Homo sapiens: one gene and its partner. The protein of the gene in region 1 interacts with the protein of each later gene in a biochemical or structural test. Each region holds a gene or a part of one and is shown on either strand. Other genes may lie near its edges.

Region 1 (7,024 bases):
TTCACTCTTGTTGCCTAGGCTGGAGTGCAATGGCGCCATATCAGCTCACTGCAATCTCTGCCTCCCAGGTTCAAGCAATTATCATGTCTCAGCCTCCTGAGTAGCTGGGATTACAGGCATACACCACCACACTAATTTTTGTATTTTTAGTAGAGACAGGGTTTCACCGTGTTGGCCAGGCTGGTCTCGAACTCCTGACCTCAAGTGATCTGCCTGTTTCGGCCTCCCAAAGTGCTGGGATTACAGGCATGAGCTACCATGCCCGGCCACAGTAATAGACAATTAATACAATATCTGAGGGGTAATTCATCACTTTCTTTCCCAAAACCACTCATTTCCTATTTGTGTTAATAGAAAAAGCCCATCATAGTTACCTTTGACTTCTCCCCTTGACTCAGTTAACTTTACTCATCAAGGCACATTGGCTTTTTTTCCCAATGCCTTTTTTCCACTGTCTTTTGCTGCCATCTTGAAGTAAGCTCTCATTATCGCATTACTTTTTTTTTTTTTTTTTGAGACGGAGTCTCGCACTGTCACCCAGGCTGGAGTGCAGTGGCGCAATCTCGGCTCACTGCAACCTCCACCTTCCAGGTTCAAGCGATTCTTCTGCCTCAGCATCCCGAGTAGCTGGGATTATAGGCGCCCGCCACCACGCCCAGCTAACTTTTTGTATTTTTAGTAGAGACGGCGTTTCACCATGTTGGCCAGGCTCGTCTTGAAATCCTGACCTTGTGATTTGCCCGCCTCGGCCTCCCAAAGTGCTGGGATTACAGGCGTGAGCCACTGTGCCCGGCCAGCTCTCATTACTTCTTATCAGTGCATCTGTAACAGGCTTCTTACTGCTCCTCGTCCCCAGTTAGCTTCTCCTCCAGATCCATAGAGTTGTCAGATTCATGTTCTTAAAACCCAGCTCTCTGCTTCCCACCAAACTCTAAGTCACATTCTTCGAGCATTCAAGGGATGCCACTATGTTGCCTCAACCCATCATTCCACACGAATCTCCTGCTGTTTTCTTACAGAAAACCTGCTATGTCCATTAAGAAACATGCAAACTGCATTGTGAGGTGGTTGGCTTGTTATACCTTCACACTTTTTTTGCTCATAGCACCCCTTTAATCACTTACATACAAACCTAATCCTGCTTATCAGAACTACCTTGAACCCTTCTTCAAAATGATAGAGGTGCATAGGAGAGTAAGAAGTAAAGTCAATGCCTGTAATCTCAGCACTTTGGGAGGCCGAGGTGGGTGGATCACATGAGGTCAAGAGTTTGAGGCCAGCCTGGCCAAGATGGTGAAACACCATCTTCACTAAAAATACAAAAGTTAGCCAGGCGTGGTGGTGCATGCCTGTAGTCCCAGCTACTCGAGAGGCTAAGACATGAGAATCACTGAATCTGGGAGGCGGAGGCTGCATTAAGCTGAGATCGTGCCACTGCACTCCAGCCCAGGTGACAGAGTGAGACTCTGTCTCAAAAAAAAAAAAAAAAGAAAAAGAAAAAGAAAAAAAAAAGGAAATTCAGATTTTTAGCTCCTTGAAAGCAAGTACCATTTCTTACTCACCTTGCACTGAAACTCAATCAATATTTGTCATAAGGAAGTGAGGAAATGTGTTCAAAATGTAATATTTCACCAAGTCAAGGACATTAAAGATGGGGGGTGCTGCAGTAGGCATGGTAGTATGCTGAGAAAAGGGACTTCAAGGAGTTCTGGGACATACACCCTGCCTTCAGGGAGCTAATGTACCAGGAAGAGGCAGGACAGACCAGGTAAAATGATAAGGAACTAACACCAAAGTGGTACCACTTCCAACCAACATTGTAAATCAAAAATTTGGACCAAGGAGAGGAGAGAGAATGGTAGCTGGAGAAGGATATAGGATCAAGGAAGGTTTGGTGTTTGGGTTTTATTTTAATACTATATGTAATTAATAATGAGTATGGAATTTTATATTTCATTTTTTTTTTACATGGAGTTTCGCTGTGTCACCCAGGCTGGAGTGCAGTGGTACAATCTTGGCTCACTGCAACCTCCGCCTCTTGACTTCAAGTGCTTCTCCTGCCTCAGCCTCCCTAGTAGCTGGGATTACAGGTGCCTACCACCATGCCCAGCTAATTTTTTGTACTTTTAGTAGAGATGGGGTTTCACCATGTTGACCAGCCTGGTCTTGAACTTCCGACCTCAAATGATCCACCCGCCTTGGCCTCCCAAAGTGCTGGGATTACAAGCGAGAGCCACCAGCCAGAATTTTGTATTTTAATTACTTAGATTCCTGATCAACATAAACAATTCCTTATTCTTAACAGAAAATATGCAGGATAAAACATATAGTGATAACTATTGCCAAAACTAGCAGTTTCTAAAGTGGTTTTTTGTTTTGAAATGAAATCTCACTCTGTCACCCAGGCTGGAGAGTGCAGTGGTGTGATCTCGGCTCATTGCAACCTCCACCTCCAGGGTTTGAGGCGATTCCCCTGCCTCAGCCTCACAATTAGCTGGGATTATAAGCATGCACAATTAGGCCAGGCTAATTTTTGTATTTTTAGTAGAGATGGGGTTTCACCATGTTGGCCAGGCTGGTCTTGAACTCCTGACCTCAAGTGATCTGCCCGCCTTAGCCTCCCAAAGTGCTGGGATTACAGGTGTGAGTCACCGTGCCTGGCCTGAAGTTGTTTTTTTTTTTTTCTTTTTTAATTGTGTTAAAATACATGTAACATAAAACTTACCATCTTAGCCATTTCTAAGTATAAAGTTCAGTAGTGTTAAGGATATTCACATTATTGTGCAACCAATCTCTAGAACTCATTTCATCTTGCAAAACTAAAACTCTCTGTTAAACAAATTCCCCACTCCTCCCTTCCCCCAGCCCCTGGCAACCACCAGCCTACATTCTGTCTCTATGGATGTGATGACTCTGGGTACCCAGCAGTGGTGAAACCAACTATCAGACCCCACCAACAAATGACAAATGCCAGGATACACCTAGCCAATCAATCAGGTGCATGGCAACTTTGCTTAGAAAATACAGATCTCACATCTCAACATATCACCAATCAACTTCTGTAGAATTTCCACATATCCCCAGAAGGATGATAATTAAAGTTAGAGAACTGACTTCTGGAGAGTCATTAAAAGGCTAGGTGCTTTTTGTTTGGATATATTTCAGATATATCAGATTCACATGATTCACAGATTAACTCTTTGTCAGTGGCATCTTGAATAGTTAGGTACTTGGTAGCCAATGCAAAGAGTTTTTCTTCCTAAGCAGAGCCATAATAAGGGGAAGAAATGATGAACTTACACCATTGTAATAGTTCTCTGAGACAGGAGAACAGGTAGCAAAAAAAGACCTCCTTTCTACCAGAGGTCTGTAAAAATAAGTCAACAAACCCATTCTGGTTGAGAAGCCCTCCTCTAAAACAGAGATATAAACTGGTCAAAGGAAAGACTCCCCAAAAGATTTAATTTCTTTAACATTGTAGGGCAGAGTTTTCCCAACACATCGATTGAATGTTCAAACATGGCCTCAGTACAATGTTCTGGTACAACAGGAAAAAATTGTCTCTAAAGAGTTTAATTGTTGGGCCTGGCATGGAATTTCACCTGGCCAACCAAAGAACCAGTACCCAGACATCCTGATTCTAAGAATTATTCATTTATTTGCATGTCAATTTTCTTTAGTCACCATAACCTAAAATAGTTGGTCCATATCCTGGGTGGTGAACAGGCTTTGTTTTCTGTCCAGAGACCTCTCTCTCTCTCCCAGCACACACCCCTGTATTTGGCCCTCTCAGGTCACATCTGAATTCAGCCAGAAAGCTTTTTGTACACATGGGATCGTGCATGGTGTTCTAATGTACTGGCTGGGAAACATACTATGGCTTTTGAATTAAAAGAAAAAAGTAGTATTTAAAATTCCCAATTTTGACAATGATTCATGGACAAGAAAAAGTTTGGCCCTAGAAATGGCAGAAAAACACTCCAAAAAGACTACACTTTTTTTTTTTTTTTTTTGAGATGGAGTCTTGCTCTGTTGCCCAGGCTGGAGTGCAGTGGTGCAATCTTGGCTCACTGCAAGCTCCACCTCCCGGGTTCAGCCATTCTCCTGCCTCAGCCTCTCAAGTAGCTGGGACTACAGGTGCCCGCCACCATGCCCAGCTAATTTTTTCTATTTTTTAGTAGAGACGGGGTTTCACCATGTTAGCCAGGATGGTCTTGATCTCTTGACCTCGTGACCCGCCCGCCTTGGGCTCCCAAAGTGCTGGGATTACAGGCATGAGCCACCGTGCCAGCCAAGACTAGACTGGTTTTTATCAAAGCACCTGTAAATCTAGTTAATAAGAAATCAGTCACCCGGGCGCGGGTGGCTCATGCCTGTAATCCCAGCACTTTGAGAGGCCAAGGTGGGCAGATCACCTGAAATCAGGAGTTCGGGACCAGCCTGGCCAACATGGAGAAACCCAGTCTCTACTAAAAATACAAAATTAGCCGGGTGTGGCAGCGCTTGCCTGTAAACCCAGCTACTCAGAAGGCTGAGGCAGGAGAATCGCTTGAACCCAGGAGGTGGAGGTTGCGGTGAGCCGAGATCACGCCACTGCACTCCAACCTAGGTGACAAGAGCAAAACTCTGTCTCAAAAAAAAAAAAAAAAAAAAGGTCAGCCACCATCAAGCCTGTTCTTATGTATATTCTATCAATGGATAGAGCAGAACATTCATTCTAGCCCCAGCTCTGCCTGAAAGCCAGGCAATCTTAGACAAATCCACAAACTCCCTGAGCTGCCACATCTTCTTCAGTAGAATCAGGTACCTATTTGGTGCTGTACCTTTTCACGGTGCTCTGAGGGTGAAATGAGATGATGTCTGTGAAAGGATTCTGAGGCCGGGCGCAGTGGCTCACGCCTGTAACCCCAGCACTTTGGGAGGCCAAGGTGGGCAGATCACCTGAGGTCGGGAGTTTGAGACCAGCCTAACCAACATGGAGAAACCCCGTCTCTACTAAAAATACAAAATTAGCCGGGCATGGTGGCACATGCCTGTAATCCCAGCTACTCGGGAGGATGAGGCAGGACAATCGCTTGAACCTGGGAGGTGGAGGTTGCAGTGAGCTGAGATTGTGCCATTACACTCCAGCCTGGGCAACAAGAGCAAAACTTCATTTCAAAAAAAATAAAGAAAAAGAAAAAGAAAAAAAAAAAGAAAGCATTCTGTAAGGTATTATTACACATCCAAGAAGATGAAGCCAGTCTATTGGTATATCACTGGATACACATTTAGTGTTGGTTGGAATTTCCAGACAAGTTACAATGTCTTTATGGCCACCCTGAAGATTTTTGCCTCCTAATTTTACTTTTTGACTTCTGTCCACAGAAATCCATCACCCCTAGTCCAGATAGCTGGGCTGCTGGTAGCCTGCCAACACTGTGTGTGTGGACAAAATGCCACATATTCCTGATGCCATATTCTCAAGCTTGCAGACTAGGAGGATAAGTCTAGGAGGATAAGAATAGAGGATAAGTCCTCATCCCTATTCTTCTTCCACCTGCCCATCACACTTTCCCAAGCATTCAGTTCAAATGCTCCACATTTGTGTGTCCTGCAGAAGTAAAAAATTCACGCTCACAAAGCAGCAACTAGAAGGAATTTCATGGAAAAGATTTAAAAAGATTTCTTAAGCAACAAGCATCCTTGATGTGCATAAGTAGCTGTTTGACAATTATTAGCTTTTTTGGGGGGTGGGGGTTATACTCTAGCTCTGTAACTCAGGCTAGAGTGTAGTGGCAAGATCATGGCCTACTGCAGCCTTGATCTCCTGGGCTCAAGGGATCCTCCAAACTCAGCCCCCCAAGTAGCTGGGACTAAAGGCATGCACCATCATGCCCAGCTGATTTTTAAATTTTTGTAGAGATAGGGTCTCACTGTGTTGCCCAGATTGATCTTGAACTCCTTGCCTCAAGCAATCCTCCCACCTCGGCCTCCCAAAGTGCTGTGATCACAGGCATGAACCACCACACCTGGCCAATTATTATCTTTAAATGTATTCTTATTTATTTATTTATTTATTTATTTAGAGATAGAGTTTTGCTTTGTTGCCCAGGCTGGAATGCAGTGGCATGATCGCGGCTCACTGTAAACTCGGCCTCCCAGGTTCAAGCAATTCTCATGCCTCAGCCTCCTGAGTAGCTGGGACTACAGGCTTGAGCCACCATGGCCAGCTAATTTTTTGTATTCTTAACAGAGACAAGGTTTCATTATTTGGCCAGGCTGGTCTTGAACTCCTGCCCTCAAGTGATCCAGCCACCTAGGCCTCCCAAAGTGCTGAGATTACAGGCGTGAGCCACCACACCCAGCCTTTTTAAATATATTCTTTCAAAACAAAATATTAAGGCCCTCAATTAATTTAATATTAGGAAGATAAAACACTCCAAAATCACCAGAGAACTCATCATTAATAACTGATTTGCATGTAATTCTTAAGAACATGTACATAAGGAAACCCTGTTTCCTTCTAAAATGAGGAAAAGCTAATTCTCCTAGTAACCAATTGGCGCTTATTTAGTTGGATAGGAAAGAGTTTCAAGGGTTTGAATAGGGTAGGAGGACCAAGCCTCGAAGGCAGGGGTGGGAGAGAGTTCATCAGTCTTCTCAAGTGTCTTCTCTCTCAACAGCAAGTTTCTGCTCTTCCCTAACACCAACAACAGCCACAGACCATGCTCTGTAGGAACTGGACCAAATTCAAATATTCATTTGGGACAGGGTCAGAGAGAATTCCGAGTGAAGGGATTCAAGATGACACAGCCAATCCAGAAGTTAGGCTGAATGCACTCAACTCCCCTTCCAGGCCTGGGTTTGACAGTAGAACACACAACAATTTACTAACAAAATGCTGCAGTCTGGCTTTGAGGAAACATATACAAGTCCAGCAATCTATCTTTCTAGGTCACCCTAACTCTCCTGCCCTCTCTCAAGTACACCCACACAAAGATTCTCCACTAAAAGCCCTTCATTTTCAAGACCTGTCATAATT
Region 2 (7,024 bases), on another chromosome or scaffold:
CATTAGTTGGGTGTGGTGGGGTGCCCCTGTAGTCCCAGCTACTTGCGAGGCTGAAGTGGGAGGATCACTTGAGCCTACGGAGGTTGAGGCTGGAGTGAGCTGTGATTGCACTACTGTACTCCAGCCTGGGTGACAGAGTAAGACCCTGTCTCCAAAAAGAAAAAAGAAAAGAAAACAAAAAACACACAGGGGAGGATGGAAGTCCTTGGGAGGAATAGGAGCAACCAGAAAGTTTGTTTAGGTCCTGGGTTCTTCTGTCTCCAGAAAGGACGTACCCGGGCTGTAAGGCAGGAGCTGAGAGGATGGTATCTGAGCACTAGGGCCTTTGTTACCTGTAATTGGAGACAGAGAGAGCAATTGGGGAATGACACTCAAACCCGAGAACCCTGAGACATAGATGTTTATGGTTTAGGGTCAAACAGGGACATTTTATTTAACCAGACATAATTGCCTCTCTGGCTAACCAGACTCCACTCCAACTCCTTACCCAGAGAAGAAGAGTGAAGGCCTGACTACGACAGGGCCCAGAGCCCAGGCCAGCCTCCACTTTGTCCACAGCTAGCTGTAGGAATTCATCCAGCTGCTGCCCTAAAAAGGAGAGAGGAAATGCTGACATAAAGGCTACACATTTTCCCTTTAGCAATGAAATGCAAATCACTTTAAGTGCAGAGCTCCCTGAGAAGCTGTTAGAAAGGGAAAATATCATTTTTGCCTGTGGACAAAATGATTGGACACCTGCATAAGAGCCTGGTATTCTCATAATACAGAGGTGCTGCCATTTGAAAAGAGAGGGTCATCTACTTCCAATAAAGAATTATCCACACTAGCCCCACTGTAGGGAGTAGGACGGCAGAACTAGACTCTTTGTGCTCCCTTCTCTTCTTAGGTACTATAAAGCTCTGCCCAACTGTGGTCTTGACGCTTTTCCCACGGGCAGTCCCAGGACAGTGCTTGAGCAGTTGAAGCCCTGTTAATGTTATTAGCAAGCTCCTTTTAAAAAGAGAATGAGTACTGAGCTATAAGATTTCATGGGTAGTTGATTCTGGGAGGCTCCTTACATAGTCTGATCTCAGTACCTGCAGGGTGCTTGTTGAGGAGTCCTGCAAAGCACTTGGCAGCAGCGGTGGAAGAAAAGGGGCAGCTGTGGCAGCAGCTCAGTTCCAAAAGCTCCCGCATGAGTTGGTTCAGCTGAGGGATTTCCACCTACAGAAAACCTGGCCATGTAATGGACCCAGAGAACACTTGAACTCCAAGAGAACCAGTACATAGTGGCAGCAGGGACCGGGACGGATGAGAACTAACTTCTCTGGTGGGGGAAGTAAAAGATCAGCTTAGCCTGTGGCAAATTTCAGCCCGGAGTCACCTTGTCAAGGTTAAATAACAGTACTTCCCAAATGTGCTCACTTACATTTCGAGGCAGGGAGCAGACAAAGGCCATAAGCAGTGCAATCAGCCGCCTCTGCCCTGAGGAGCCATCCTATAAAGGAAGGAGAGCCCGATCAAGCCTGCCAGCAATAAGCTTGTCTGCCCCTCTACCCATTCCAGATTAGCCCTAAAAAAAAACCAGCTTGAAGGATGTAAGTTCTAAGACTGTTACCTGGAATGGCTGGAATCTGCTCGGGAAGCTGTTTTCAGGCAGAAAGGACACGTTGCCATCCAAGAAGAGGGGCACAATGTGTGTCACACTCTGGGCAGCTAACCTGGGGGCAGAGTACTAGGTATGACCAAGGAGCTAGGATTCTAAAGCAGCCCTCTCCTCCACAGACGTGCTTTTCAACCTAGGGTTTGAATTAGGATCACCACGTCAATGGGACATGCCCTGATCATTCATGCATTGAACAAATATTAATTTGGCACATATGTGCCAGTAATCATTTCCATTCAGGTTCCCATCTGGGAAGTCAAGGTATATTTTAAAATGCTCTACAGGTAATTCTTAAGCACATCTGCGGCTAAGAACCACTGGCCCTGGCTTCCCACCCTCATAGTCCATGGTGCTAAGAGCCCCTTCCTTTTGTTTTGTCAACAAAACTTACAAGACGATTAACTGCACCACATTTACATATAGGTAAAAGGACAGCTGACAAGGCAGCTACCTGTTGCTTCTTCCTAAGAATGCTATCCTTCTCCCTGGGTTCAAGCCACATCCATGATTATACTTACTCAGGGCTCAGGTGGGTTGTAGCAGTGCCAATGACAGACACCATGGCAGCCAACACCTCATCCTCCAATAGTACTTTTCTCAGAACTGAGGGCTCCTTCTCTGCAAAACACACACACATGCACACAATCACAAGACCATGACGGGTTCAAGAAATGAATGATTGGGTTCTGTCAGCATCACTGACTCTGGGGCTTGACTCTAGCCACGACAGCAGTTCTTAATCTGGTCTCTGGTAGTGCTATAGTCCTGAGAATCAGGGCACCAGAAACAGGAGTGGTCTGACCTGGGGCCACAGAGCGCTCCTGAGAACTCTGCACAGTCTTTAGACTAGGCCAACAGTGGGAAAGAGGGATAGCTAAGATGAACATTCTTAACATAAGAAATAGAAATGTTGTCCCTGGTGTCCCTGGAGATGCAAGGAAAAAAAAATAGTAATGTTGGTCTCTGAAAAAATTAAAAACATAGATTTATCTTCATGGGTCCTTATTATTTATAGCAACTATCATACACTGAGTACTTCCTATGTGGCAGGTACTATACACTAACTTATTTAATCCTTACCAACTACCCTGTGAAACAGTTTTTTTTTTTTTTTTTTTTGAGACAGGAACAGGATCTCGCTCTGTCACCCAGGCTCGAGTGCAGAGGCACAATCATGCCTCACTGCAGCCTTGAACTCCTGGGCTCAGGTGATCCTCCCACCTCAGCCTCTTGAGCAGCTGGGACTATAGGTGTGCACCACTATGTCTGACTATTTGTAGAAACAGGGTCCCCTGTGTTGCCCAGGCTGGTCTCAAACTCCTGGACTCAAGTGATCCTCCCATCTTGGCCTCCTGAAGTGCTGGGATTACAGGTGTGAACCATGGCGCCAGCCTAGACGGTACTCTTTATCTCCATCTTACAAGTGAGGAAATTGAAGCGTGGAAAGGCTGAATATCTTCACCTAAGTTAGCAAGTGGTAGAGTTGAGGATAAAACCCAACCAGGTGGGCTTGACTCCAGAGTCCAATTCTAAGTAAACTAATCACATAGCACTTCATGGGGAAAAGGTGTGCATTCTTTTGAATGTTGCTAACACTAGTGGATTTTGGTTCCTGCCACTGGTCAGGGTGGCACCCTTTGCTATGAAGTGAAATCTCACTCTGAGGACAAAGGATTGAAAATAAACCTCTGATGGTACAAAATACAGTACCACCAATACCCAGAGGGTGGTGCTGTTCAACACCAGCAGAGGGCAAAGTTCCCAAAGGCCAGGAAGGAGAGGTGGAAAGTTACCTGGCATAGAGGCCTGCACAGCCAAGGCAAGCAGGCAAGGTATAGCTGTCTGGTGGAAATACCAGCAACTCTCAGGGTCCTGCTGACATTTTTCTGCCATCTGTCTGAGGCTCTGACAGACAGCAATAACGTCACTGGATTGTGCAACCATATTCCCTGTTGATGAGAAAGTGTTCTCTGTAAGGTTTGCTTAAAAGCACTTTCAGGTGTTTCCAATTACACAGCAGATGAGAGGAACAAAGAAGAGTGACTGAAGGGACCAAGAGTGCCTTATTAAAAAGCTGAGTCACTTTATTCTCCTGGCTGTTCTTTCTGATCTATTCAGACTTCATAGTTGAGACTTGCTCTGTCCCAGGCTCTGCAGCAGAAGCACTTGTATATATTCTCTCCTTATTTTTCATAACAACCTTAGAAGTATCATTTCCCTCACTCTATAGAGAAGGACATGGAGGCACAATGAAATACATGATCAGTGGCTTTTCCAGGGTCACAGGAAGTGCAAAGTCAGGAATCAAGCCCAAGTTATAATCCAAGTCTAGTATTCATTCTACTATGTAACAGCTGCTGGATCAACCACAGTGGGCCTGAATCTACCCACAGGGCAGGCTGCTGTCACTTTTGCATTGGAGCAGTGCTTCTCAAACTCAACAGTCTACGAGTTACCAGGGTACACTGTCAAAATGCAGATTCTGATCAGTGAGGGCCTGAGATTCTGCACTTCTAACAAGCTCCCAGATGTCACCCATGCTGCTGGTTAACAGACCATCTTTTGAGCACCACGGCCTTAGGGTGATGCCTCTCAATTCAGATCCCACATGAAAATTACCTAGGTAATTTTTTTTTTTTTTTTTGGAGACAGGGCTTCACTCCTGTTGCCCAGGTCAGGCTGGAGTGCAATGGAGCGATCTCGGCTTGCTCCAACCTCTGCCTCCCGGGCTCAAAGTGATTCTCCTGCCTTAGCCTCCCAAGTAGCTGGGACTACAGGTGCATGCCACTGCTCCTGGCTAATTTTTGTATTTTTTGTAGAGATGCGGTTTCGCCATGTTGCATCGGCTGGTTAGGTCTCAAACTCTTGAGCTCAAGTGATCCATCAGCCTTGGCCTCCCAAAGTGCTGGGATTACAGGCATGAGCCACCACACCCAGCCCGGCACTTTTTTTTTTCTTTTTTGAGATGGAGTTTCACCCTGTTTGCCCAGGTGTGAGTGCAATGGCATGATCTTGGCTCACTGCAACCTCCGCCTCCCAGGTTCAAACGATTATCCTGCCTCAGCCTCCTGAGTAGCTGGGATTACAGGCGCCTGCCACCATGACCAGATAATTTTTAGTAGAGACGGGATTGCACCATGTTGGTCAGGCTGGTCTCAAACTCCTGACCTTGTGATCCACCCGCCTCAGCCTCCCAAAGTGCTGGGATTATAGGCATGTGCCACTGCGCCCAACCCTTTTTTTCTTTTGAGATAGAGTTTCACTCTATTGCCCAGGCTGGCCAGGCTGGAGTACAGTGGCGCAATCTCAGCTCGCTGCAACCTCCGCCTTGTGGGTTCAAGAGATTCTCCTGCCTCAGCCTCCCCAGTAGCTGGGATTACAGGCGCATGCCACCATGCCCAGCTAATTTTTTGTATTTTTAGTAGAGACTGGGTTTCTCCATGTTGGCTAAGTTGGTCTCAAATTCCTGACCTCAAGTGATCTGCTGGCCTCGGCCTCCCAAAGTGCTGAGATTACAGGCAAGAGCAGCGGCCCTGGCCGGGTACTCTTAATAGTACTGTTGCCTAAGTCCCATCCCTCCTCAGAGACTGATTCAGTTGGACGCAGGCATCAGTATTTTTTTTTTCTTTTAAAAGAGTTGATTCTGTTACTCTTATGTATAGCTACAGCTAGAACCACTGCCTTAGAGACTACAGCTCCCTATTCAGCCCAGTCCGTTGGTGGTTATTCCTAGTAGTTACCTCTGTTCACTTGCCAGAGATGCTGCAGCAGCAGAGGCAGTGTCTCCTTGACGATGCTGGGATGTGTTGATACAGCTGACAAGGCTTGCAGACAGCACAGATGCCGGGAGCATTGGGTGGGCTCATCTCCGTTAGTCAAATTTGACTCCCCTGAAAGCAACCCATGAGACAAAGGTTTACTGTGTGATAGGAAGCACGAAGGCCCCAAAGCCTTGCTGGAAAGGGATGGGCCACAGAGGATTAGAGACACATACCTACACGCAGCTCCTCAGCGAGCTTGGGTACGAGGTGGCTGCTGAAGGCCACAGGGTAGAGAGCAGCCAGGGTTCCTGATGCTTCCAGTGCTGCCACCCTGCTGGAGGCGCAGAGCAGATAAGCATTGGCTGAGCCTGGGCTCACAGCTCTCTTGCCTACGTCTGATATTAGGCAGATTCAGGAGTGTGAGCTCCCAACGCCTCCTTGCTAAAGAGCAGAACTCAAGTACCTACACCACTGAGTTGGACAGGGCTTCTTAAAGCCTAAGAAGAGAGCAGTCCTACATCTCTCCAACTGGTTAGCAGCCAGAGTCTAACACAGAGCTCACCTCCCCTAAGGAGAGCCAAGGGTCAGAAGCACAGAGCCCTGGTCCTAGCTTGATCTTTTGCTGCCAATACAGAGGCAGGGAACAGCTTGCTCTATCTCATTGCTTTAAATTCTCACCAACTCTGGGAATCCTCCTTCAGGAAGCTCAGTCTGTACAGGTGACCCACTGCCAGCTCCAAGTCCTCATAAGATAGGAGATCTGTAGTTAGAAGGGAACATGAATCTCATCTTTCTTCCCCTGCAGCCATCACAACCCTTCTAAGCTCTTATTAGAAATCCCAAATCATCCAGAGTTGCAGTAAGAAGAGGATAGTAAGGCTGCTTTTCACCAAGGCAGTCTTACAAGAAAAGGACCAATATTTTCCTCTTCTCTTTCCCTTAAGATGTACCTGGCTGGGCACCCAAGACTGTCAGTGTACGGATGCCAACAAGCTGAAGCTGGGTGCTGGGGTCTGTTAGAGCCATGAATACCAGTGAGCACAGCTGGTCCTTGAAGCCATTCAGAGGCCTTTGATCTAGGGAAGAGACAGAGGCCAGGTTAGAAGGAAGCCACTGCATTCCATATCCCTGACTAAGCTGTGATACACAGCCAACCTGGGGTAGATTTTTTTTTTGAGACAAGGCCTCTGTTGCCCAGGCTGGAGTGCAGTGGCGTAATCTCGGATCACTGCAGCCTCTGCCTCCCAGGTTCAAGCCATTCTCCTGCCTCAGCCTCCCGAGTAGCTGGAATTACAGGCATGTGCCAACAGGCCTGGCTAATTTTTGTATTTTTAGTAGAGACAGGGTTTCACCATATTGGCCAGGCTGGTCTCGAACTCCTAACCTCAAGTTTTCCGCCTGCCTTAGCCTACCAAAGTGCTGGGATTATAGGTGTGAGCCACCATGCCCCGCCTCCTGGGGCAGATTTAAAGAGCTTAATCCATTGGGTATCCAGAAAGCACACTGAGAAAAATAAACAGATCTCATCCATCTCATCTGTTAAGTGTTCTCTTGTGCTACAACCTCAGAATAGGACCACTGTTCTAGACTACTTTTCCACAGCACTCTTTGCCCTGCT

What was found. Proteins that work in one complex are often made in the same cells at the same time.
Region 2: the proteins of ESR2 (region 1) and MMS19 form a complex in vitro, tested with the Homo sapiens proteins (one study listed by BioGRID).

The regions. Positions count from the first base shown.
Region 1 is NC_000014.9:64,284,354-64,291,377, forward strand, and holds part of ESR2 (estrogen receptor beta), read right to left. Parts: intron 1-7,024.
Region 2 is NC_000010.11:97,460,420-97,467,443, forward strand, and holds part of MMS19 (MMS19 nucleotide excision repair protein homolog), read right to left. Parts: intron 6,483-7,024; coding exon 6,357-6,482; intron 6,167-6,356; coding exon 6,085-6,166; intron 5,741-6,084; coding exon 5,640-5,740; intron 5,536-5,639; coding exon 5,386-5,535; intron 3,595-5,385; coding exon 3,439-3,594; intron 2,264-3,438; coding exon 2,164-2,263; intron 1,701-2,163; coding exon 1,598-1,700; intron 1,478-1,597; coding exon 1,409-1,477; intron 1,204-1,408; coding exon 1,077-1,203; intron 589-1,076; coding exon 488-588; exon of another isoform or gene 401-487; intron 333-400; coding exon 276-332; intron 1-275. UniProt on the Homo sapiens protein: Key component of the cytosolic iron-sulfur protein assembly (CIA) complex, a multiprotein complex that mediates the incorporation of iron-sulfur cluster into apoproteins specifically involved in DNA metabolism and genomic integrity.